5 separate regions of the Homo sapiens genome follow, and regions 1, 2, 3 and 5 are each linked to region 4. Evidence: fine-mapped expression QTL. A gene starts in region 4. Each other region holds a variant in brackets. All regions are shown on one strand. Distances are between the middles of the regions.

Region 1 (5,103 bases), 30 kb after region 4:
CTGGGTGACAGGAGCGAAACTCCATCTCAAAAAAACAAACAAACAAACAAAAAGAATGAAATATGGATATATGCGGTAACATGGTGAATCTCATAAAGATTGTGTTGAGGGAAATAAGCCAGAAACAAAAGAGTACATACCATATACCACAGGAGTCCATTTCTATGTAGCTTAAGAACAGACACATTTTGCCAATGGTGTTAGAAATAAGAAACATGGTTATCTCTACAAGTGAGTGTTGGGTGATGGGTACTAAATGAAGCAGCCTCACCCAAAAGTGGACTTGCAAAAATGCACGTGTTCAGGTGGATCCTTTGACTCACTCTAAGCAGAGTAAACAAAGAGGTGGAACCATTAGGTACTGAGATTTTAGCTGTTGGCTGGTCAGGTCTGGCAGTTAATAAACACTGGCCACCTCAACAAATGGTCAAGTGACATTGGCCTTGTGTCACTGCACATACATCCAAAACACATTGCACTGGACTCTCCTGTTTTAGAAGTCAATTTTCAAATAATAAATATAAATTTTGTAATGGTCATGTCTCTCTAGCCATTTGGCTTACAGGGATATATCCTGTAGAAATACATCTTCACAGGAATATTCAGTGCAGTATTATTTATAATATTATCTTCATCTTACATGTGAGGAAACTGATATGAGCAACTTGTCTAAGGTTATACAGCTGAAAAGTAATAACGCCAGGGTTTTAATGCAGAACCCTCTGACGTAAAACCCTCTGCTCATTCCTTGTACCTAGTATGCTTGTCTTCAAAGCAGTCATAGACCGTTGGGGGCTGTGTGTAGACACCAAACAGCAGCAGTTGGTGAGCAGCCTTTGTACTGCAGTTGTAGATAGAACAGAAACGGCAGGGCCAGGGGCCTTCAATCAGCGACCAAGCATGTGTGGCAGAGCCCAGAGAACTTACAGAACTGGGATACGTCCTCTAGAAAGGCTTCACTGCACTCTCTCAGTCCCATATCCTAAAACTTCCTGAGTTGGAAGTGATTTATGAGGCTCCAAAGGTTAGTGCTAGGACCAGAGAGGGAATTATAGGAAGAAGGATTTCAGCTCATTATACAACAGTCCTCCACTTAGCTGTGGCTTTGCTTTCTGAGGTTTCACATACCCAAGATCCACTGCAGGCTGAAAATATTAATTAAATGGGAAATTCCAGAAATAAGTCATAAATTTTAAATTATGTGCCATTCCAAATATTATAATTGTTCCATTTTATTATTAGTTATTGTTGTTAATCTCTGACTATGGCTAATTTATGAGTTAAATTTTATCATAGGTATGTATGTATAGGAAAAAACATAGTCTATATAGGGTTCTGTACTACCCACATTTCAGGTATCCACTGGGGGTCTTGGAACCAATTCTGCATGGATAAGCGGGGACTACCATACTGGCAACAAAAAAAAATCACGAAGTCCTCGGCTTCTAAATCCAATTTCCCCATTAGCTTACTGTGTAACTTTGGACAAGTCACTCATTCTCCCTGGACCTCATTTCCTGACTGTAAAAAGAGCGGATTGAGTTAGATAATCCCTAAGGTGCTATTTAGCCCCTTCAGTGGTTGTCTGCTGGCCATATTGTCCATATTCTGGATTAGGCGTCATCTGCCCCTCAATTCTCATTTCCCCCCCAAGAGCCACTTTGAGGTTTGGAAAAAAAGAAAAATTCTCACTCATCTTAAGTTCCTCTCTAAGAATGTAGCCAACCAGAGAGTTCAAATCATAGGGTTCTAGGCCAGGCCCAGTGGCTCATGCCTGTAATCCCAGCACTTTGGGAGGCCAAGGCGGGAGCATTACTTGAGGTCAGGAGTTCGAGACAGCCTGGTCAACATGGTGAAACCCTGACTCTACTTTAAAAAAAAAAAAATTGGATGGGGCATGGTGGCATGTACCTGTAGTCCCAGCTACTCAGGAGGCTGAGACAGGAGGATCACTTGAACCTAGGAGGTGGAGGCTGCAGTGAGCCAAGATCGTGCCACTGCACTCCAGCCTGGGCGACAGAGCAAGACTCCATCTTAAAAAACCATACTACGGGCCAGGCACGGTGGCTCACGCCTGTAATCTCAGCACTTTGGGAGGCCGAGGCGGGCAGATCACGAGGTCAGGAGATTGAGACCATCCCAGCTAACACAGTGAAGCCCCGTCTCTACTAAAAATACAAAAAATTAGCTGGGCGTGGTGGCAGGCGTCTATAGTTCCAGCTACTCTGGAGGCTGAGGCAGGAGAAACGTTTGAACCCGGGAGGTGGAGGTTGCAGTGAGCCAAGATCGCACCACTGCACTCCAGCCTGGGTGACAGAGCGAGACTCCGTCTAAAAAAACAAAACAAAACAAAACAAAAAC[G/C]GTACTAAAAATTTTTTTTGTTTTAAATCAAGTCAAATCATAGGGTTCTAAATTTCATTTCCCCAGAATATCTCCTCACGTATCTGGAGACAGTAGTCGTGAGACACTAAAGTATCTTTTATCTTGCTTCAGTATCTCTTAACCATTCCTGATATAAGGTGGTTTCAAGACCTTCTTCAATTTTTAAAGCATTTTCCTCTGGCTTGCTTCAGTTTGCTACTGTCCACTAGAAATGCAACACCAAAAATGAAAACAAAAAACTTGAACACAGAACTTCTGATAGGGACTTACCAGGGCAGAATGGAGCAGGTTCTTCTCTTCCCTCATGCTGGTCACTGTACCACTGTTAATGTGTCCTATAATCTAAAGAGCTGTTTTCACAACAGTTAACTTTGCTGGTTCTTATTATTTGGTAGTTATTAGTTACTAGTTATTATTTGCTAGTTCTTATGAGTCCTTTTTCTGATGACCTATAACTAAACCTAGTCACCCCCAGTCTAGTTCTTTTGGTTTAGCTGTGTGTGCATGTGAATCTATACCCCTGGCACAAAGAGCAAAAAAACAGAGAACTACCCTGGAACTTGTGTGTAGTTGTTGGCCAAAATATGTGCCTGTCAATATGTAACAATTAAGTTGTGAAACAATTACAGGTTTTGTTGTTGTTGTTGTTGTTGTTTGAGACAGAGTCTGGCTCTGTTGCCCAGGCTGGAGTGCAATGGCGCAATCTCGGCTCACTGCAATCTCCACCTCCTGGGTTCAAGCGATTCTCGTGCCTCAGCCTCCCAAGTAGCTGGGACTACAGGCACCCACCACCATTCTCGGCTTATTTTTGTATTTTTAGTAGAGACGGGGTTTTGCCATATTGGCCAGGCTGATCTTGAACTTCTGACCTCAGGTGATCCGCCCACCTTGGCCTCCCAAAGTCCTGGGATTACAGGTGTGAGCCACCATGCCCAGCTTCAATTACGTTTTTTTAGCTGATTTAGTGTACTGTGTGTGTGTCCCCTCTTTCCCTGCCTGTGCCTGTCATAGGAAGACCCAAGCCCACCTTCCACCCAAGACTTGGAAAACAGCTTTTCTGGATGTCACTCATGTTTGCTGTCCTCTGGCTTTACCTTATCCAGCAGCACAGCAGTGTGGAGCAATAAAGGAAAGTGATAAATCAGCATAGAGAGCGTTATCCCCAACCTCAGATCACACAGTCCTTGCAACCTTAAAGCCAGACAAAATCTGAGAAATCATCTTGTACTTCTAAAGCAAAATCCTTTCCATGGCGTCTCTAAGAGCTGGCTCTCCGGCCTCATCCAGACTCTGCTTGCATACTTCCATTCGTAGAGATCTTCATATTTCTCCATTCAGTCACTGGCAGCCTACCTTGTGCCAGGAGCTGTGTCAGTTACTTTCTCATATATAATTTAATCCTCACAACACACTGTGAGGGTGCCATGCCATAGCCATATCACATTCTTCTCCATTTGACAGACCAGAAAACCGATCATTCATAAGTGTCATGATGTTAGATCATCTGACTCCAAGCTAGAAGGGATGGGAAGCAGAATGAGGGCTCCAGCCCCAGCATCTTTTCCTCCAGGGCACGACTTAGGAATATAGTCTTAAAGTACTTTGAAATAATCTTCTTTTAAATCTCTGAAAGAGCAGAAGTTTAGAGGTCAGGCAGACCTGGTGTTGAATCCCCTAGCAGCTTGTAAGCACCTGAATGTCTGGATTCTGTCGTCTCTGTATCCTTCCCTGCTGGGCCTGGCATTGCTCCTGGCAGTCAGTTGATGCTTTTTGATTGAGTAATAAGATATGAATAATGCTGTATACATGTGTGGTACATAAACTTTCCCAAGTTATTCTTTCGACACATAGCCCACTTATTAATGCATTCAAAGTACTAGACACTATGCAGAGGGCTATAGGAGGCATAAATATGAATTATAGAAGACTTGCCCTTAGGAGCTTTATATCTAGAAGGTAAGCTATAAATAAGATACGTATCACAATGTGATCTTCGCAGTAACCCCATTGGATTGGTAAAGCCAGAATTATTATCCCCATCTTATAAGTGGAGAAACTGAGCCCCAGCAAAGTGCAGTGACTGCCATGAGTGGAGTGGCTGAGAGGCAGGGCCAAACCAGAGCCAGGGAACCTGCCTCCCAGCTCAGCTGTTCATCTGGAGGTTGTAACTACATAGCATTATTAGTTAAAGGAAAGAACAGGTTTTGCAAACCCTCACTGTTCTATAGATTATGGTCTGAAAGTCTACCTGATATTGCTTTTCCCTTCTTCAAACCCCATCCCCATCTTCCTGTCCTCTCAAGGATACAGTATACTTGCTCCATCGCAGCGCCCTCGAGCTCACTTACATTTTATTTATTTACACGTATTTCTCTCTCCTTTCTCCTCCAGGTTGTGATCAATTATTCAATCGTGAAAGGGCTGAAGTACAATCAGGCCACGCCAACCTTCCACCAGTGGCGAGATGCCCGCCAGGTCTACGGCTTAAACTTTGCAAGTAAAGAAGAGGCAACCACGTTCTCCAATGCAATGCTGTTTGCCCTGAACATCATGAATTCCCAAGAAGGAGGTAAGTAGGGCTTTGTCTTGGCCTGATGCTGAGACCCTCTCTTGTTCTACCTCTGCCCTCCCACAGCTCTGGCTCTCCGGGTATCCTAGCACTGTCACTGCATTGAGCTGAGGTTGCATGTGTTCTCAGAGAAACCTGCTGCCTGCCTTTAG
Region 2 (5,103 bases), 56 kb after region 4:
AGCCTCTGTCCTCCTGCAGCTCTTTGTGTTCAGAGAAGAGGTCAGCCAGGGAACCTATGGCCCGTCCTGCTACCAGTGGTGAGCCCTGCCACCAAGGGCTGGACCCACATGACACCATGAATGCCCAGCCACCCTGCTCTTGTTTGATGTTGGACCTGAAATTTCCCTTTCTCTTTTTCATTTGTCTGTGGCATGATGGGTTCTTTTATTTTTCCTTTTTTAATTTTTGAATTTCTTCTCATGCTTGTTTCCTATCTCATCCTCTTTATTTTGACTTGACAAAATTTGTCTGAGATGAATGAGAAGAGGGTGAGAGTTTTCTTAGTTGGAGTCCCAGGTGAATGGGCCAGGCCCCTGCCTCGGCAAAATCAGCTCCCAGACTCAACAAGCTTGGGACACTGGGGCCAGCGTCACAAACCCTGTGGCTCTGGGCAAGTCCCCTCACCCCTGAGAACCACCACCACTCATCCCGTATACTTCAGGGGGCCGTGGTGGAACCAGCTGGGCAGTGAGTGCACGCAGCCTGTGGAGAAGAAAGCGCTCCACCGAGGGGACCACACCAGCAAGGCTTGGGGGGCAGAGGGCCACTTAAGCCAGCACATAGGCAGGTTCCCGTCCAACTCAGCAGAAAGATCAACAGTGTGCTTTCAACAGTAATGCGAACAAATATTTCCAGCACTTTATGGATTACCATGTGGTTTTTACTCCTAGAGTTTGTTTATTCCTCACCGCAGCTTGGTGAGGTACCACTGTTAGCGTTAGTGTATTAGGACTCCCATTTTACAGATGAGGGCACAGCAGCTTGCCTAGGGGTGCATGACTAGGCAGATGTGAGGCAGAACTTAGGCCAGGTCCTCTCGTGCCCACTGCCTGCCCAGGTTAGTACCTCATGGGAACAAGACAATTAAGATGTGATCCGCAGACCATCGTTGCCATACATTCACTGTACAAAGGAGGGCACCTCATGGCCACAGAAGGTGACTCTGCGCTCTGCCACTGTGTGCAGAGCCACAGGGTCCTCTAGCAGAAAGGCATCTGAAACTCACAGCCCTGAGAAAAAGGCTGGGTCAGCAGCTCTGTGACTTTAGTTTGTCCCTAAGGCCTCTGGTCAGCAGAGGGTACCTGGTGCTGGCAGGGCATCGTTACACTGCTGCATCCTCTCTGGACAAGCATGAACTTGGGGGACCCCTTCTAATCCCTATATCTCCGTGGCTCACCTCCTAGGTTTTTCTTTTCACTCAAGTCAGTTCAGCATGACTCCTTCACCTGAACTTTTCCCCAAGGGTGAGTGAGCTTGAGCCCCCTCTCCCCTTCCTGACTTAGTTCAGTGGAATATGAACTAAGTGTCTGATGCGAGCCAGGCTATGAGCGTGGAGTGCGGAGTGAGACGTGCTCTCTGCCTGCAAGAAGCCCAGGGTCTAGTACAGAAAAGAAGGCAGCTCCCAAATTACTGGAATATGGGTGAGAAAGCTGTCAGTTTTTAAGAGAGGCGCATGGGCACCGGTTGGTGAGAAGGAGCATGAGGACCTGGGGAGGGCTTCATGGAAGAGGTGACCACTGAGCTGGGCCTGGAAGCCTTGCTTGGTGGAGACGGCAGGAAAAGGTGACCCACATGGGTTGAGTAGCGCACAAAACACAGAGAGACAGGAAGCATGGTGGGGCCGGGCCCAGTGTCCAGGTGCAGGAGGTCAGCTATGGAGGACTGTCGGGGAGGCGCAGCCACAAGGTGGCCTGGGGCCTAGGCTGAAACCTTGAATCTTATTCAATGGAGCCTGGACCCAACCCTGTGCAGGTCATGTCTGTGTTTCCCAGACATCACTTAGGCCACACTGTCAGAATGAGAGAGAGTGGAGGTGAGGGTCCAAGAGAGAGACGCCAAGGCTGCCAGGTGGCAGCAGAGAAGCAGGGTGTTTTGTGGGGCAGCCGACACAGCACCAACAAGACTCCGTTACCTAACGAGCCGTGGGAGGCAGAGAGGGAAGAGCTGGGACTCCCACCATCCCCATCGCCCTGACTCCTGTGGAATCCAAGCTCAGCTCGGGCGACGAGAGGTGGCTCCAAGGTGCTCATCTGCAGCACGGGACAGGTGCCACATCCTCCGCCTTGGCTTCTGCCTGCATCACGCAGGGAAGTCATGTGTAGTGCCTCACCACTAGACACGAGGGAGTCTGATTACTAGCAGCCAGGAGCCTTCCTTAGCTACTCCTCCCACTGAACAAGCACCTGCCAAGGGGCTGCTGCTTGGAGCTTCCCAAGGGCCACCAGCAGTCTGCAGCAATGACCTTCCCTGTCCCTCCCCCCGACTGCCACGGGGAAGCTGTGCCGGGGGACGGAGGAGGCCAGGAGTAAGGGGGCGATGGGAACCTCAGGTCTGTCACAGTTACCCTGGGTGACATTGGACAGACCCCTGCGCCTTGCTGGGCCTTAGCTCCCACCCCTAAAACAAAAGGACTGTACTTTTATAATGTTCAGGGCCATGGTGGCTCAAAACAATTGAACATTTTCTTCGTTTAAGAAGAATGGCAAGCCTTACGTAATCAGTGCAATCAAGTGTTATCCTTTCCTGCTCTGTCGGGTCTAAAACTCCAGCCAATTTTTAATCAGGTCTTAGGTGCAGGGGCCAGAGCCCTCTGGAAGGGCCAGGGCTCCTATTAGACTTTCCCAGCCTCTGGAGAAACAGGTTGGGAGGGTGTTGGGAGGACGTCAGCCCAGCAGGCAAAATGGGGAATCCAAAGCACACAACCACACAGGCCTGTGTGTGGGCAGCTGGCTGCCATCGGGGTCCTGACAAGGGTGGAAAACAGTTACAGTGACCTGGGCAAGGCCAGACCACAGACACAGAAGGATCTTGCGACAGCTGGTGGAGCCCAAGCGTGGAAAGGCCTCCATCCTAGGGCAGGGCCAACCCTCAGACCAAATGCTAGACAGGGTCGCTGGGACAGGGACTCAGC[T/C]CCCAGAAGGACAAAATCCAGATCCAGGAGTGAACTCAGCCGTTGAGACCCGGTCTTAGAACAAGGCAGATGTCCAGTTGTCCAAGCCAGAGCCCAAAGCCTGTGCCAAGCTCACAGCAGAGCAGCTCAGGTGCAAGTCCCGGACGTGGAGCTGAAACGCCAGGAATCCCTCCCGCCTCAGCCAGGATGAGTGGCAGTCAGGGGGCGGGGGGACACATGCCCACAGCACCTTGCACACCATCCAAGGGCAGCTTATGAGTCTGCCACATTCATCCTTCTTTCTTCAAGCTGGTCTCAATCTGACACCACTGTCTGATTGAGTTTAAGAAAGAACGTGGCATTTGCAGTTGGTTTGCATCTGCCACTTGCTGTATGTAAGACCTTGGGCAAGCCATTTAGCCTTTCTGGGCCTGGCTTCCCAGCTGTTACAAGTCCTTATGGGAGCCTTCTTATAGGGCTGTGAGAATTAGAGTTAAATTTAACATTAAATTTTAAAAAGTGCCTGGACGTTGCTCTGGTAATAATGTTCACATATTCATTCCTTCTGTTTCTTGAGAACAAGGAGGGAAGAACCACTAAGACCTTGGTCCTCTATGAAGTAGGAGGGAACAGGGCTGTCCCCACATCATCAGTGCAGTTGTAACTTGAATATTGCTGTGACCCCATCCTGCGGCAGAAACAAAGCCACTTCCCCATCTTGTCAGGGAGGTATGAGAGCAGCCTGCCCAGAGTCCCTCTCCCAGTCACTGCGACTCTCTGCAGTTCCCTAGTGACACCTGAGCTGGCAGAGAAGGAACAGTCAGCTCTTTCTTAGGTGGCGGCAGAAGCTTAACTGTGGCACAGCATGGGAAGCCCTGCACAGGCCCCAGCTCCAGCCTCCTCTGAACAGGAGGTCTGCACAGCAGACTTCGCCTATGCCGGGGTCCCTCCTTCAGGGTCCAGGGCAGGGTGTGGCCAGAAAGTTCCACACCAGTCTAGAACAAGGGGAGCAAGGGCAGGGTCTGGCTCCTTCCCACCCGCAGCTCCAGACACCCTTTGTAGACAGCAGGGGTCACCCCAGGTCTAGAAGCATAGGCCTCAGCTCAGACACACCCAGGTTTTAACTCTGACCAAGACATCCGCCAGCTGTCAGTGTCAGTCCTTTGCTCAGAAAGTGGAATCAAGTGGACTTGTTAGGTTTGGCAATTCCCAGTTCCCCGCTGATTTTAATTAGAACATCCTGGTGGGATGTAAAGAGGCCAGATTCAATGTTAAAGGGTTGAGGGGGTGGTGGCCAGCAAGAAGGTCGAAGCAGTGAGAAGATAGTTTGAGAGAGAAGGCGAGCAGGGTCAGTAACTGAAAGGGTTAATTTTTAACCATGTGAAAGTTTGGGTCTCATTTATTGGTTCAGAATGAAGAGCCGTGAGAGAGAGAGGGTGATTGAGAGAGGAGATGGAGTGAGTGATGCACAGGTGTGAGTGAGGCCAACATTTAAAAAGATTCTTAAGGATGTCTCTTCTGCAGCCAGAAGGTGGGCAGAGATAGAGAGCACTCCAGTTGGGTTTGCTGGGGCCTTTCTTCCTCTAACCACACTGTTTCTGTGCTTCTCTGCCCACAGGCCCCTCCAGCCAGCGTCAGGTGCAGAATGGCCCCTCTCCTGATGAGATGGACATCCAGAGAAGGTAACCCAGCACCCGCAGGGGCCAGGCTGGTCATCTCCCAATCAGGCTGGGTGGCCAGGGGTGCCTTCAGCGGGTGAGGATGCACCAGCAGCCAAGGCCAGGACTCCTAGAGGCATACACTGCGGGAGGGTGCAAGGTGCAAGCCAGACCAGGAAGAAAGAGGGGGCCGATGCGCAGCCGCTGGTCCCGGACACCAAGACCAGGAATGACTGTGGGAGTCTGGCATTCTACAGAGAGTGCTGCTGACCTCCAGCGGGACGGCTCTCAGGGTGACCCAGCAGGGCCCAAGTGCTGCTCCCTTGTTGCCTCACTTGCCCTTCCCCAACGTAGCAGGAGGCAGTCCAGGCATGAGGGATTCAGCCTGTTGGGGCAGTCACGCCCATGGGATGGGGCTAGGGACCATAGGAATGAACCCCCTCACCCCATGGAGCTTCTAAAGTGTTACCACAGTGGGGAAGAGGAAGGGCCAAGGCTGTTGTCCCGAAATTACA
Region 3 (5,103 bases), 120 kb before region 4:
TTGCTCAACCCAGGCCAAAAGAGGCTCCCAAGCCAGCTTGGGGGACTCCAGAATCCAAGGGCAGGTAAGTGGGCTGCCGGAGAGGAGCGAGAGCCAGGAGGGCCATGGTGGAGCAGGAGACAGTCCCACACGTGGAGGATCTTGCGTCTGCAGCAGCAGGGCAGCTCGATGCAGTGCTTGCCAGGAGCCAGTGTGGACTCTGCACTGGCTTAGCAACCGGCATTCCAGCATCTCCATGCGCAGGCAGTGCCAGGCAGGAGATCCAGGCAAGGTGGGGACAGCCTCAGCCACGTAGGGAAGAGAGAACATGAGGCCACGGGTCGCACTGGGCTGTCAGCCCAGTGGGGGCGGGGGGTGTGGAGGTGGAGGAAGCTTCCAGGCCGGTTGGAACTGGGGAGAGGCAAAGTTCAGTGGATTCTTGGCATTGGTAGATCTTAGGTCCTGGCCGCCGGGGTGAGAGGGACTCCCTGGCAGGGGCTGTCTTTGCTTCACTGGAAAGCCCATTCTGGCATCTCCCCAGCCCCCCACATTTTTTTGAATGATTACTCCCACGCCCAAAGGTTGGCTATTCCATTCATTAGCCATCTCTTCTGTGGTTTGGGAACAGGCTGCTGTCATCCTATCTTACAGGCACAGGAGCGCATAGGAAAGGGTAGATGGGGATGGTCCAATCCACAACTAGGGGGACAGGTTTTGGTGAAAAGGAGCTAGGGAACATGCGCTTGATGCAAGGTGAAAACTGACTCCAGACCTGTTCTTCCTGCAGATTCTCTTTTTTAAAAAAAACTTTGGCCAGGCGTGGTGGCTCACGCCTGTAATCCTAGCACTTTGGGAGGCCGAGGCAGCAGATCACCTGAGGTCAGGAGTTTTGAGACCAGCCTGGCCAACATGGTGAAACCCAGTCTCTACTAAAAATACAAATTAGCCGGGTGTGGTGGCACATGCCTGTAATCCCAACTACTTGGGAGGCTGAGGCAGGAGAATCGCTTGAACCCAGGAAGCGGATGTTGCAGTGAGCCGACACCACAACACTGCACTCCAGCCTGGACAACAAGAGCGAAACTCAGTCTGAAAAAAAAAAAAAAAAAACTTTACAGAAAATTTCAAACATACACAAAAGTAGAGAGAGCCTCTCACCCAGACTAAAAATGATCAGCGTACTCACCTGGCAGGGGAGATGCCGTGATCACGAAAGTGGTCTTCCTGGGGTGAGGCTTATCCACTGCACTCCAGACGTGCTGACCCCTGCAATTTCCCCAAAAGTGGGAAACTCGGCTGCGTCATCTGTGGTCATGGGGGCTGTGTTCATGCTTTCCCCTGGTTAAAGAAAAAAAAAATCAAACATTTAGAAAATCTTGTTTCCTCTGTCTCCCCTAACTTTTGGGGGAGATGGAGTTTTTGTTTTTGTTTTTGTATTTTTGAGACAGAGTCTCGCCCTGTTGCCCAGGCTGGAGTGCAATGGCATGATCTCATCTCACTGCAACCTCCGTCTCCCAGGTTCAAGCAATTCTCCTGCCTCTGCCTCCCGAGTAGCTGGGATTACAGGCACGCACCACCACGCCCAGCTAACTTTTTGGTATCTTTAGTAGAGACAGGATTTCACCATGTTGGCCAGGCTGGTCTCAACTCCTGACCTCGTGATCTGCCCACCTCAGCCTCCCAACGTGCTGGGATTACAGGTGTGAGTCACCGTGCCTGGCCAAGATGGAGTATTTTTTAAAACAAGCCTACAGGACTTTGAGACCAGCCTGGGCAATATACCAAGACCTCATCTTTGCAAAAAACTAAAAACTCAGCTGAATGTGGTAGAGTGCACCTGTAGTCCCAGCTACTTCAGGGGCTGAAGAGGGAAGGTCGCTTGACCCCAGGAGGCTGCAGTGAGCTGTGATTGCGCCACTGCACTTCAGCCTGGGTGACAGAGCAAGACTTTGTCTCTAAAAAAAAAAAAAAAAAAAAAAAAAAGCAAGTCTAAGCCACCATGTCGTTTCACCTATAAATACTTCAGTCTGCCGCTGTGGTGAAGACACTTTGTGTGAGGACACCATGACATCATCACAGCTGACAAACTTGATGATTTCAGTTTCTCGGGCTGTCAAGCCTGATGCTGTGTCTCAGAGCCTGGCTGCACAGGAGCCTAGAACAGCTGCCTGGCCTCCCTGCTGAGCAGTTCAGGGTCGGGTGTCGAGCGTGCAGCCCCCAGTTCTGAACCCTTCTCCAGAGCCCAATTC[T/C]TCCCCCCTGACCCCGCTGCTCGATGCCTAGTGGCATCCCTGCCCCTCCCCATCTCCTGCAGACGGGATGCTCAGTGCTGTCTGAAACCTGGGCTCCTTCCATCTCCTGCCGGATCCCTGGCTGTGCTTTAGGCCACCTCAGGAGACCCCCTTCTGGGCCAGACAGCCTGGATCTTCCCTACCTTGCTGGCAAGCCAGACCGGACCACAGAAGCCTTTCGGAGTACCAAGTTCCCTCTTGAAGGAAGGAGGCTTGTTTAAGGGGAGCCTCCCCTGCAGGAAGTCCGTGCCCTCCTGGGGCGTTCCAGGGGGTCCGCAGGTCAACTCTAAGTTTCAATAAAAATGGGGCACACGCGCACACCACCCTGCGCTAGGGAGCTGGGGCGGGGCTGCGGGTAGCACACACTTTCTCGCTGACTGCCCCGGATCTCAGGGGACCCCGGCGTGCGGGAAGCCGGAGGGGACGTGAGATTCAGGGGCTCTGGAACACAGGTGACGCCTGGGCTTATAATGCGGGCCAGTTAAGAACAAATTTGGCTATTTAGGCTGAAAACACGAGTAGCTGCTCTAGCAGACTGAATAAGTAATTATGAAAAGACCTTGAACTTGGGTTATAAATTGAAAACCTCCCCTTCCCAAGCCCCCTCCAGCCCCGCGGCCAACTGCAGGTGCGCCACCTGGTGGCAGAAGAGCAGAGCACCGCCCCTCTCTCCAGCTTGCCAGGGCTGATTCTGACCTGGGGAGGGTTGGGGTGTGGAGAGAGAAAGGGAAACTCTAGTTGACTTTCTGGGTGGGGCGTATGTTTCAACTGACCTTCTGAGAGAGCTTTCAGAGGTTCTTGGAGAACCCCAACGTTGCTGATCGCCTCTCAGCTGCAGTCCCCTGGACCTGAATGAAGGTGTTCTGTTTAGGTGCGGCCTCCTTCTGCAGCCCTGAAGCACCGGGAGGGCTGCCTCCATCGGCCTCCTTCCTGCGGAGATCCCACCGCCCTCCGGGGAAGCCCGCTAGACAGGATCTTAGACGACCTTGCTTGGATCCTTGCTTGGAGGTTCACATCTGGTCTCAGGGGACACTTGTGCCTCCCACACCCACACCTTGCACCAGTGGGTGGGCAGTTACTGCCTTCCACATGCAGCCTTCTCTGGGCAGCTGGCGCTTTTGAGGCACTGGTCCACAAATCGCAGATGGCACACCTCAAGCCCTCCAAGTGGCTTAGGCAGAAGTACCCTCCCTGGTCCTCCCTCAGGAGAAGCAGGGTTGGAATCAGCAGCTCAACTTTCTCCCAAAGAAATCCTCCTTGCAAATATTACTTCTGAAAATGTCTAATTCCCAACGCTTTAGTACTCTTATCGTGGATGAGGATGCCCAGGAGGTGTCTCGGGAACCTCTTTTGTAACTGCTGCTCATGGTCTAACAGTGCCTCTGGAAGACACATCTATTGGATCTTGGCTCCTCGGCTGAACGCTCATTTCAACATCCAGTTACATAACCACAAACATTATTGCACAAGTTTTTTGTACATGTTTGCAAGAAATTATCTGGGATCCTACCTGGAAATGGGACTACTGATTTTCTGGGGCATGCATTAAATATTGCCAAACCATTCTCCACAGCAGCTCCACTGGCAGCCTGGGAGTCTCTGTTGCTCCACTTCCTCATCCATATTAGGAATTGTCATTTCATCTCATCTCATACAGACCCGAGAAGCAGGATCCATCGCCCCTCTTTGAAGAGAAGAAAGAGGGTATATTAGGCTGTTCTTAAACTGCTATAAAGAAATACCTGAAGGCCGGGTGCGGTGGCTCATGCCTGTAATGCCAGCACTTTGGGAGGCCGAGGCAAGCAGATCACTTGATGTTAGGAGTTCCAGACCAGCCTGGCCATGGTGAAACCCTGTCTCTATAAAAAATACAAAAAAATTAGCTGTGCATGGTGACCCATGCCTGTAATCCCAGCTACTTGGGAGGCAGAGGTGGGAGAATGGCTTGAACCTAGGAGGCAGAGGTCGCAATGAGCCGAGATCACCCCACTGCACTTCTGCCTGAGCAACAGAGTGAGACTCCGTTAAAAAAAAAAAAAAAAAAAGAAAGAAAGAAAGAAAAGAAGAGAAAGAAAGAAAAGGAAATACTCGAGACTGGGTAATTTATAAAGACAAGATGGCTGGGCATGGTGGCTCACACCAGTAATCCCAGCACTGTGGGAGGCCGAGGTGGATGGATCATTTGAGGTCAGGAGTTCGAGACCAGCCTGGCTGAAATGGTGAAACCCTGCCACTACTAAAATTACAAAAATTAGCTGGGCATGGCCAGGCACGGTGGCTCACGCCTGTAATCCCAGCACTTTGGTAGGCCAAGGCAGGTAGATCACGAGGTCAGGAGTTCGAGACCAGTCTGGCCAATATGGTGAAACCCCATCTCTACTAAAAATACAAAACTTAGCCAGGCACGGTGGAGCGCACCTGTAGTCCCAGCTACTCGGGAGGCTGAGGCAGGAGAATCGCTTGAACCTGGGAAGTGGAGGTTGCAGTGAGCTGAGATCATGCCACTGCACTCCAGCCTGGGCGACAGAGCAAGACTCTGTCTCAAGAAAAAAAAAAGAAAAGACGTTTAACGGGCTTATGGTTCTGCAGGCTGTACAGGAAACACGGTGCCAGCATCTGCTTGGATTCTGGGGAGGCCTCAAAGCAAAGAGCTTTTATTCAAGGCAGAATGTGAAGTGGGAGCAGACAGTTCGCATGGCAAAAGCAGGAGCAAGAGACAGCGGAGAGGAGCAGGTGCCACATGCTTTTAAACAACCAGATCTTGCAAGAACTCACTTGCTATCACGAGGAAGCACCAAGGGGATGGTACTAAAACATGAGAAGTCCACCCCCGTGA
Region 4 (5,103 bases):
AGCCAGGAGTTTGAGGCTGCAGTGAACTATGATCACACCACTGCATTTCAGCCTGGGTGACAGCAAGAGACCCTGCCTCTAAAAAAGTAAATAAATAAAATGTTACCTTACATGGCAAAAAGGACTCTGCAGACGTGATTAAAGTTGTGGACCTTGAGATGGAGCGGTTATCTTGGATTATCCATTGGGTCCAGTCTAATCACACGAGTCCTTAAAAGTAGAGAACCTGTCCACACCGCGGTCAGAAAGAGATGTCACTGTGGAAGAAGGGTCGGAGCACTGCTGCGTGCTTTGAAAGTGGACAGAGGGGCTATGAGAAAGCAATGCAGTCAGTGTCCAGAAGCTGAGAGAGGTGAGCAAGAGAGACCTATGTGGAACTTCTGATGATGTTGGGCTTCTGACCTCCTATCATCTTACAAAACTCTAAGATAATAAGTGTGTGTTGTTATAAGCCACTCAGTTTGTGGTAATTTGTTACAGCAGCCGCAGAAAACCAATGCTGCATGGAAAAATGTACCTAACAAGAGCTTCAAGAAATAGTGACAGAATTAAAGAGGGAAATCCACAGTCACAGTTGAAGATTTCAGGACCTTTCCCTCAGCAGTTGATAGAATAATTAGACAAAAACAAACAACAGCAACAAAAAGTAACAAGGACGTAGACGTTCTGAACAATACTATTAACCACCATGACCTAATTGACATTCTAGAACACTGCACCCGACCAGTTTCAGAATACACATTCTTTCCTTGTGCATATGCTACATCCGCCAAGGTAGACTGCATGCTGGGCCATAACGCACATTTTGATAAATGTGAAAGGATTGAGATCATACCAGGAAAAACAAAGGAAGAAGTCACACCAAATATGTTCTCTGGCCCCAGTAGAATTAAATTGGAAATAGGTAGCAACAGATATAGGAAAACACCAAATATTTCAAAATTTAACGAAGCACTTATCAATAATCCATGGATAAAAGAAGAAATCACTAGAGAAAATTAAAAATATTTTGAACCAAAAGAAAAAAGAAAACTGCAATACATCCAAACTGTGGTTTGCAACTAAAACAGTGCTTAAAGGGAAATGTATATCATTAAAAGCCTTTTAAAATGCATTTTTAGCATTCAAAGTGCATTCATCTCTCCAATTAGAACTGATACTTCTTTTGTACTGTACTCTGTACAGCTGTTTTTCACTATATCAATAATATTTTAATGGATCTATTAAATATTTGCTAACATTATCAACCTCTTCTTTTCTAAACCATAAAAGTCCTTTAAGGACAAGTACAGTCGTTCTCAATTTTTTGTCTGTGATTTCTAACACAGTGCATGCTTCTTAGTGAGTTCTCAGTAGATTTTGAAAGAAAGATTGGACTGGATCTTACCTTCATGAGAACCCTGTGGAGATAGGCAAAATAAGTATAACCCCATTTTACAGTTGAGGCCACCCACTTAATAAACAAGTGACAAAGCCAAGTTTCCAGTATTCCTCAAGTGTTTTCCTTTCAGGCTCTAAATTGCTGACTTAAATGTCATCATTAGAGAGAGTTGTCTCCTCGGTAGAAGTACAAATTTTGTTCCAGAGTCAAATATGAAGACTTGATCAGTGGCCTGGCGCGGTGGCTCACGCCTGTAATCTCAGCACTTTGGGAGGCCAAGGCAGGCGGATCACCTGAGGTCGGGAGTTCGTGACCAGCCTGACCAACATGGAGAAACCCCGTCTCTACTAAAAATACAAAATTAGCTGGGCATGGTGGCACATGCCTATAATCCCAGCTACTCAGGAGGCTGAGGCAGGAGAATCGCTTGAACCCAGGAAGCTGTGGTGGCGGTGAGCCAAGATCGTGCCATTGCACTCCAGCCTGGGTGACAGGAGTGTGAAACTCTGTCTCAAAAAAGAAAAAAAGACTTGATCAGCTTATAGCCTTTATCATCTAGTCTTCTATTCTCTGGAGAGTCAGTGGGGACTCTTCCGAGTTCTTGTAGCCTTTTCTTAAGGCCTATAGGAAGTCATCTGTGCTGAGCCTGCACTTTCTATAACAGATGGAAAACTGAAGCTCAGACATCTTAAGTGGCATTGACTTAGACTATAGAGCTAGTTAGTGGGGGGCCAGCACCATGACCTGGCCCCTACCTCCAGCAGGCTTCACCCACCCTTGCACCCTTGCAGGAAGCACTTAGAGGCTTGAGGTTGCCAGCTGTGGGGGGTTGGGCCTGTGCAGTGCCTCTCAGCCGCCCACGCTGGTGGGGCTCTGCAGTGTTAGCTTCTTGTTTCTCTATTTTCTACCTAGGTTTCAGTTTTTCACTTGGGTTTGTTTCCCCTTTGTCTCTGGTTCAGCTTCCTTTTCCTGTTTGGTTTTAAGTAGGCTATAAAAATCAAGTTGCTGTCTTCAGAGGGTCTGTGGTCCTCTGATCAACATAGGCTGGTGGGAGTACAGGACTCGCCTCCTCAGGGTTCCCTGTGCTGCCACTTTTCAGCCATGGCCACAAGGTGAGTATTGGAACCAGTGCAGGGGACAGAGGGATGTCAAGAGGAAACCTAGAATCTTAACGGTGAATGGGCTGTAGAAATTATCTCAGGTCCCCTTAGTATACTGATCGAGAAGTCCATGACCAGAGGGCAGGGGGCTTACATGAGGTTACACAGCAGGTTAGTGACAGTCTGCTCCCTCTCTAGCCGCTGGTCTTTCCATTACACAGGCCTGTGTCTCTTGATGCCTGTGACCTTTAATGGCTTCTGAGTCAAGGACTTACTTAGAAATTAGCACCTGCCTCTCATTATAGGGAGGAGGGTCTGAGCCATCTAGGGGAATTGTTGTTTAGCTCAGAGGTACATTTGGTGAGTCCTGGCCCTTCTCTCTAGAATGACCCGAGACTGGTTGTTTTTTCTAAATATAGGCAGAGAGGGTTCTTTTTATGATAGGAACTTCATGAACTTAATAGCAAGAGTCCTGACCCTCCACTTGAGAGACTTGTGGACTTAGGCTATTGCTGTTGAGCACATGTGTGAATACCAGCCAGTCTACAAACCGCACTCCTCATTGAGATTGTTCTCTCTAAAGGTGAGATTACATTTTGGACCTGCCTCTCCCCTGCCCTACAACTCTGAAAGATTATAGATGATAGGACAGACAGACTTTTATCCTGTGGGGTTTGGGGCATTTGTTTGATTGACTCATGACAGCTTTGTTTTTTAGCATAAAGTAACAATCCCTCACTTTGAAAATTATTTCACAATTTCCAAAGTGCCATTTCGCCAGTTTTCTTATTTGAATCTTTTAGCCGTGTTAGATTGATGAGAACGCTGTCATCACTCCTGTTTCGTAGCTGAGAAAACCTCTGAAAAGTTGTGGGGTTTGTCCAAGGTCACATGGCAGGTTGGGGAAGGAATGGAACCAGGGTTTAACGAGGTTGGCCTCATCCGGTGGTTTTCGCAGCACGCTACACAGGCACAGAAGCAGCTTGCAGTGAGTTGTTAAAATTGACGTGGTGATAGGTAGAACTTGTCCAGGGCTGCTTATTTTCCAGTTGGCTTTATTTCTGATCCTGTCATTTTAGTAACTTTCCTTTAACTTTAGAGGACTCGTGAGTGGAGCTTTAGAAAACAGAATGCTTTTCATTTCAAAGGCATATCAACTTCCAAAGTCATTTTCAGTTGTAAATTACATTGTGAAAACTTCTAGCAGCTTATTCTACCGTGTCAATTACTAATTGCAGAAAATTATATCAAAAGTAAATGAGGCACAGCAATTTCTTTTTCAATTTTAAAATCGTAGAAATCCTAGAAATTTCCATCTTGAAAAGACCTTGGAGGTGATCTACAGTAGATAAGATGTTTTGGGCACCTTATTCTCCACTTCAGCCAAAATAACTCTGCTTTTATGTTTTCTATGTATTCCTTGATAATTCATTGAGAAAAAACAGTCATTGTTGGTGGTGGTGATGACTTTCAAGTCTGAAGATTACACTAATCTAGCCCAGCTCTTGAGTGCGCAGATCAGGAAATTGAGGCCCAGTGTGGAGCAGAATTTGTGTACGGGGAGCGGAGTAGTGGCTGAACCAAAGCAAAAGCCCAGGTTTTCTGGTGCGTCCCTCCCCCGTACAAGGCTGCTTGCACTCTGCCACAGGTCCCTGGCCTGGCACCATAGTGACAGTCCTGGTGGAAGCAGCGTTCGTGGAGCTGCAAGGTCAGCAGCCATAGGAGCTGTGAACTTTTCGTTTTTCCTCATGCTGACTGACACATGGGGATACCGTGGCGCCTGTGGTGGGGATACAAAGGACCTTTTAAATGTGAAAATATATCTTACCAGCTCTAGCTCTGGCTACCCACCAATCAAGAAACAGTTTCCAAGCCCTGACTGGATTAGGAGCTGGGAATTCTCTTGAGTGCATGACAACGTACAGAATGCTTTCACTGACGTTATTTAGTTATCGCAATAATCCTGAAGGTAGTGTTGTGGGGCGTTTTTGTTTTTGTATTTTTTAGAGATGAGGTCTTGCTTTATTGCCCAGGCTGGCCTCAAACTCCCGGGCTCGAGCAAGCCTCCTGCCTCAGCGGGACTACAGGTGTGGGCCACCACACCCAGCTAGCATTGTTTTTATTGTTTCTGTTTCACAGGAGAGAGTAACTTGACAAGAGACATAGCCAGTGAGTGATAGACCCAGGACTTGAACCTGTGCCTCCTGACCACAGATGCTTTGCCCTTTTGCTCTTACGCCTGAATTAGAGCTGCCTCTGTCCTCAGGGACTGGTAGGGAGTGAGGAAGACAGCACTCACAGAAATGAGGAGGCGACTGGCTGTGAGGACCCTGCAGCACAGAGAGTAATAAGCATAGACAGGAGGGGCAGTAAGAGTTGAGAAGTTGGGGACTGTCAGGGAAGACCTCAAAGAGAAAGTGGGATCTCAGGTGAACTTTGAAGAATAGGGATGATTTTTTAGAAGGCACTGGCAGGCATCACAGGCAACCAGTCACCCAGCGGCTGCTCTGGGTGCTAGGGACACAGTGGTAAACAAGACAGGCAGTCTTGTCCTCAAACTGAGGGCAGAGTCGGGAGGCAGAATATAGTCAAGAAACCATCAACAAGAGACGTGAAAACAAT
Region 5 (5,103 bases), 110 kb before region 4:
TGGTGGTGGTGGTGCTGATGATGGCAGTGATGGTAATGGTGATAATGTTGATGCCAATGATGTGGTGATGCTGGTGATCATGGTGGTGATAATGGTGGAGATGGTTACGGCGTGATAGTGATGATGATGGTTGTGATGTTTCATGGTGGTGGTGATGGTGGTGATGCTGCTGCTAGTGGTGATGGTGATGATGAAGGTGATGGTGATGTTGATGATCATGGTGATGATGATGATGGTGATTGTGGTGGTGACGATGATTGTGATGCTGAGGTGATGGTGATGGTGGTGATGCTGATGATGGTGGTGATGATGATGATTGTGATGCTGAGGTGATGATGGTGATAGTGATGGTGATGATGATGAGGATGATTGTGATGCTGACATGATGGTGATGGTGGTGATAGTGATGGTGATGATGATGATGATTGTGATGCTGAGGTGATGGTGATGGTGATGGCGGTGTTAGTGGTGGTGATAGTGGTGGTGATGCTGAGGTGATGGTGATGGTGATGGTGGTGATGCTGATGATTGTGGTGATGATGGTGGTGATGCTGATGGTGGTGATGATGGTAATGATGATGGTGGTGATACTGTTGTGAACTCCCAAAGTTTGAAACAGGTTTCAGTTAATTTAGAAAGTTTATTTTGCCAAGGTTCAGGACACACCCGTGACACAGCCTCAGGAAGTCCTGACAACATGTGCCAAGGTGGTCAGGGCACAGCTTGGTTTTATACATTTTAGGGAGACATGAGACGTCAATGAATATATGTAAGAATTACATTAGTTCCATGCAAAAAGGCAGAGACAACTAAAAGCAACCCCCCCACCCCTTCCCTTCCAGGTCACAGGTAGGTGAGAGACAGATGGTTGCATTCTTTTGAGTTTCTGATAAGTCTTTCCAAAGGAGGCAATCAGAATATGCATGTATCTCTGTGAGCAGAGGGATGACTTTGAATAGAATGAGAGGCAGATTTGTCCTGAGCGGTTCCCAGCTTGAAGGGGCCCAAGATATTTTCCTTTCACACTGGTGATCATGGTGGTGATGGTGGTGATGGTGGTGATGGTGATGGTGGTGGTAATGATGGTGATAATGATGATAATAAAAAATACTAAAGGCCACCCTTACTGAATGCCATTTCTCCACAGTGTACTTGTGCTTTATATGCTCCTTCCATCAACATTTAGACAGGCTCAAATATTTCCTGTTAGAAAAAAACCTTCCTGGTCCATCCCTTTGCCACAGAGCTCTCTCGGGGCCCTCTTCTCTTCTCCCTCCACCTTCTCCCCAGGTTATCTCATCAGCTCCCTGGGGCCAGCCGCCTCTTCAACCCTTACAAGGTCCCAATCACTATCTTTGACTCAGCCTGTCTCCTAGCTTCAAACCTCTGTGTTCAACATCCTGCAGGATGTCTCCATCTGCTCATTCACTGGAGCCTCCATCTCTACATGCTCAAACCCAATTCATCCACTTCTCCCCCAAAAACCCGCATGCCATCCTCCCAGTGGCCCATGCCAGGCATGTGGGTGTTCCTCTTGCCTGTATCAGCAAGCAGCCAATAAGTGACAACCTCGATAGCATCACTCAGCGAGCTCTTACCCACCCCTTGCCAGGTACTGTTGGAGGTGCCTTATGCATGACGGCTCCTTCAACACTCTCAACAGCCCTGTGAGAGGGTCACACAGTGAAACAATTGGGATTTTAACCCATGTAGTCAGGTTTCCAAGATCACACTCAACCACAGCACCATTCTGCCTCTTCCAGAATCGAGGGCTCTGCTCCATGAGGAGCCAGGGCACGTGTCCACGTCATCTCTCCACGGATGCTGCCTATGCCCTGGAGGGCCACCATCACTGCTGGCCTGGCTGCAGCCATGTTGACCTTCCTCCAGGCAGTCTGAGTGACCTTTCCAAACCATAAATCTGACCATATCACTCTCCTGCTTAAAAATTCTTAGGAAAAAGCTCCTTCATGTTACACACAGGACCGGTCAGTGAGCTCTGGTTCCTCTCCAGCACCATCTCTCAGCTCCTGCCACAGAGCTTTTCTCTGTCCAACCACCACGGCAGCCTCTCGTTGCCACCTGGTCTTTGCTCATGCTCTGTGCCCCCAACCCTCTTCCTCTCATCATTCTGGCCAACCACCATAACTTTCAGAACTCAGCTCAAAAGTCACTTCCAGCAGGGCACAGTGGCTCACACCTGTAATCCCAGCACTCTAGGAGGGCAGGGCCAGTGGATCATCTGAGGTCAGGAGTTCGAGACCAACCTGACCAACATGGTGACACCCCGTCTCTACTAAAAATACAAAAATTAGCCGGGCATGGTGGCAGGCACCTGTAGTCCCAGCTACTCAGGAGGCCGAGGCAGGAGAATCCCTTGAACCCAGGAGGCGGAGGTGGCAGTGCGCCAAGATTGCACCACTGCACTCCAGTGTGGGCGACAGAGCAAGACTCCGTCTCAAAAAAAAATAAAAAGTCACTTATTCCGAGAAGGCTTCCCTGAGTGCCAAGGCTGGTTCTTGTCCCTCCTCTGTGTCCCCACCTCTGTTGTACTTCCCTTCTCATGCTGAATTGTGGGTGTAGGTTTATGTGCCTCCAGCCTTTCTGCCAATCAGCACCCTAAGGTGGAAGCACTCTGCATCTCGGGCACTCTTCTTTCCCATCACCTAGCACAGTGCCTGGTGCCCACATGTTATCAGAAGTGTTTGGTGAATACATGAAGGAGTGGACTGTGAGCCTCTGAACTTGCAGTACCCTTTGCCCTTCACACTTCACCCTGAGCATCTTTTCTTGCTTTGGGTGTTTTGCTATGGCAGAGGAGACTGCAGTGAGCAGCTGTCCACTGAGCTTTTCTTTTAGTTAAATTTATTTCTTTGAGGCAAATGCCCAGAAGTGGAATTACTGAGTTAGCAGGCAAGATCATCTTTATGTCTTCTGATATGTTTTGCAAAAATGAATTCCAAAATTATGGTAGCAATTTGGTAGATTTTTTTCTTTTTTAGCAACCTAATCCTCTCTCCCTTTTTAAGTGTCTTCCTGGCGGAAGCCACACAAAGCTATTTTTACCTAAAGGCTGTAAACCTCATCATTCTCCAAGGAGAAAGTCGGGCATGTGTGAGGAAG[C/CT]TATCTACCCACCTCACAGGCTCATCAGCCCTATGCTCTTGCCAAGCTCTAGGTCATTTTGGAAAAGCAAGTTGAAATTATATTCCAAATTAGGCAGTGGTTTTGCGAAAGAAGGAACACACACACACACACACACACACACACACACACACACACACACGTCACACACATATTCATCTCCATTTCGGGGCTAAATTATGAACATCTTTATCACTCAAAGAAACCAGAAAGTTATCAAAGCAAAACCAGTGAACTTTGCCAGGTGAATGTTACGAAGTTTGGACGTGGAAGTAGCTCGGAAGTTGGGGGATCACCTGGTTTTCACACTTTGTTTCAACAGTGTGATGGTTAATTTCATGTGTCAACTTGACTAGGCTAAGGGATGCCCAGAGAGCTGGTCAAACCTTCTTTCTGGTGGTGTTTGCGAGTGTCTCCAGAAGAGAATCAGTAGACTAAGGAAGCTTGATCTCACCAATGCGGGGGTAGGGTGGGGGGGCTGGGGGGTCATCATCCAACTTGTTGAGAACCTGAACAGAACAAAAAGGTAGAGGAAGGGCGAACTTTCTCTCTCTGTTTGACATCTACTAGGACATCAATCTTCTCCTGCCCCAGAACGTTGAAGCTCCTGGTTCTCAGGCCTTTGGACCTGGACTGGGATTCCCACCACCAGCTCCCCTTGTTCTTAGGCCTTCAAATGTGAACTGGAACCACACCACCCGCTTTCCTGGGCCACCAGTTTGCAGATGGCTGATCATGGGACATCTCAGCCTCCATAATCGCATAAGCCAATCCCCCATAATAAATCTCTTTCTATTTGTCTATACACTATACATCCTATTGGCTCTGTTTCTCTGAAGAACCCTGACTAATACCAGCAGCAAAACCTTTTTTCAGATGAAATCATACAAGAAAATCCACTCTGTAATAAGGTTAAGAATGGGGCTGCTCTGGCAGAAGCAGTCAGAGGTGGTGGTGACTCAGAAGCACTCTCACCCTATCTTGTTCCTTCCTCCTCCCTAACACCCCCTGCCCTGGCCACCTCCACCTGCCCCACGGGGCTCCAGAGTCTGCCATCTTGGAGCGGCCTCTGGAGGAAACAGAGGCTCAGGGAGAGGAAGGACCTGCCCAAATCCCCACAGTGAAGGGTGGCAGAGCGGGGTCTACCTGCCGGGCTCCTGGCTCAGTCTTGGGATGGTTCTCAACTATTGTCTTGACAGGAGCCTGCTCAGTTATTCACAGTTACAATGCACATCTTTTCAAGGACGGCCCGAGGTGGCTGGTTTCCCCCAGTGGTTAACCACCCAGGTGCCCCCAGGTATAGTTTGGTTTTAAAATTCTTCCAATTTAAGTTCCCCTATTACCAACATTTCTACTTACTTGATTTTTAAGAAAATCACCCATTGCATGTAGAACAGGTGGACATTTATTGAAATGCAACTGCAATAACATCCCCTGGAAATTAACTTCCTCTCATTTGCCCCTGTGAGTCTGTCTCATTTCTCATTCCTTCTGTTCTGTGCTTTTTTTTCTCTTTTATTTCTTGCACATTGTGAGTTTTCAATTTTTTTTTGAAGAAGCATATTTTAATTTTATTTTTCAGTATTTCAGTTATCTAATTCACTATTTTCAGCTTTTATCTTTATTCATTTCCTCCTCATAATTTCTTTTTATTTATTTTGCTGGGTTTTTTTGTTCTGTTTTGTGTGTTTGTTTGTTTTTTGAGATACAGTGTCATTCTGTCTCCCAGGCTGGAGTGCAGAGGCAGGATCTCGGCTCACTGCAACCTCCGCCTCCCATGCTCCAGCAGTTCTCCTGCCTCAGCCTCCCGAATAGCTGGGATTACAGGCACCCACCACCACACCCGGCTAATTTTTGTATTTTTAGTAGAGACGGGGTGTCACCATGTTAGCCAGGCTGGTTTTGAACTCTTGACCTCAAATGATCCGCCCACCTCAGCCTCCCAAAGTGCTGGGATTACAG

What was found. PIP is the estimated chance that this variant, and not a neighbour inherited with it, causes the effect.
Region 1: its variant is fine-mapped to the expression of EVL in monocytes (TOPMed, PIP above 0.99). The same link has a PIP of 0.9 or more in blood mononuclear cells.
Region 2: its variant is fine-mapped to the expression of EVL in whole blood (INTERVAL, PIP above 0.99).
Region 3: its variant is fine-mapped to the expression of EVL in subcutaneous fat (GTEx, PIP above 0.99).
Region 5: its variant is fine-mapped to the expression of EVL in platelets (CEDAR, PIP 0.95).

Annotation. Positions count from the first base shown.
Region 1 is chr14:100,092,708-100,097,810 of GRCh38, forward strand. EVL (Enah/Vasp-like) reads left to right here. Exons shown (of 14, transcript NM_016337.3): 3 at 4,774-4,951. Among named protein-coding and RNA genes, the nearest start is that of MIR151B, 14 kb to the right of the region's middle. The variant G/C (reference allele first, on the strand shown) is at 2,362.
Region 2 is chr14:100,118,991-100,124,093 of GRCh38, forward strand. EVL (Enah/Vasp-like) reads left to right here. Exons shown (of 14, transcript NM_016337.3): 4 at 4,549-4,612. Among named protein-coding and RNA genes, the nearest start is that of MIR342, 12 kb to the left of the region's middle. The variant T/C (reference allele first, on the strand shown) is at 2,952.
Region 3 is chr14:99,944,158-99,949,260 of GRCh38, forward strand. LOC102724682 (a long non-coding RNA gene) reads right to left here. Exons shown (of 6, transcript XR_007064328.1): 1 at 5,043-5,103; 2 at 3,778-3,951; 3 at 1,166-1,317; 4 at 1-390. It also overlaps the pseudogene RNU1-47P. Among named protein-coding and RNA genes, the nearest start is that of EVL, 120 kb to the right of the region's middle. RefSeq lists an enhancer at 1,956-2,884. The variant T/C (reference allele first, on the strand shown) is at 2,229.
Region 4 is chr14:100,063,019-100,068,121 of GRCh38, forward strand. EVL (Enah/Vasp-like) reads left to right here and starts at 2,404. Exons shown (of 14, transcript NM_016337.3): 1 at 2,404-2,493. The coding sequence starts at 2,483. It overlaps LOC124903379 (a long non-coding RNA gene), which reads right to left and starts at 1,026. Exons shown (of 2, transcript XR_007064329.1): 1 at 112-1,026. RefSeq lists enhancers at 1,878-1,927, 2,278-2,367, 2,418-2,497, 2,548-2,687, 3,068-3,147 and 2 more.
Region 5 is chr14:99,951,969-99,957,071 of GRCh38, forward strand. No RefSeq gene overlaps it. Among named protein-coding and RNA genes, the nearest start is that of EVL, 110 kb to the right of the region's middle. The variant C/CT (reference allele first, on the strand shown) is at 3,124.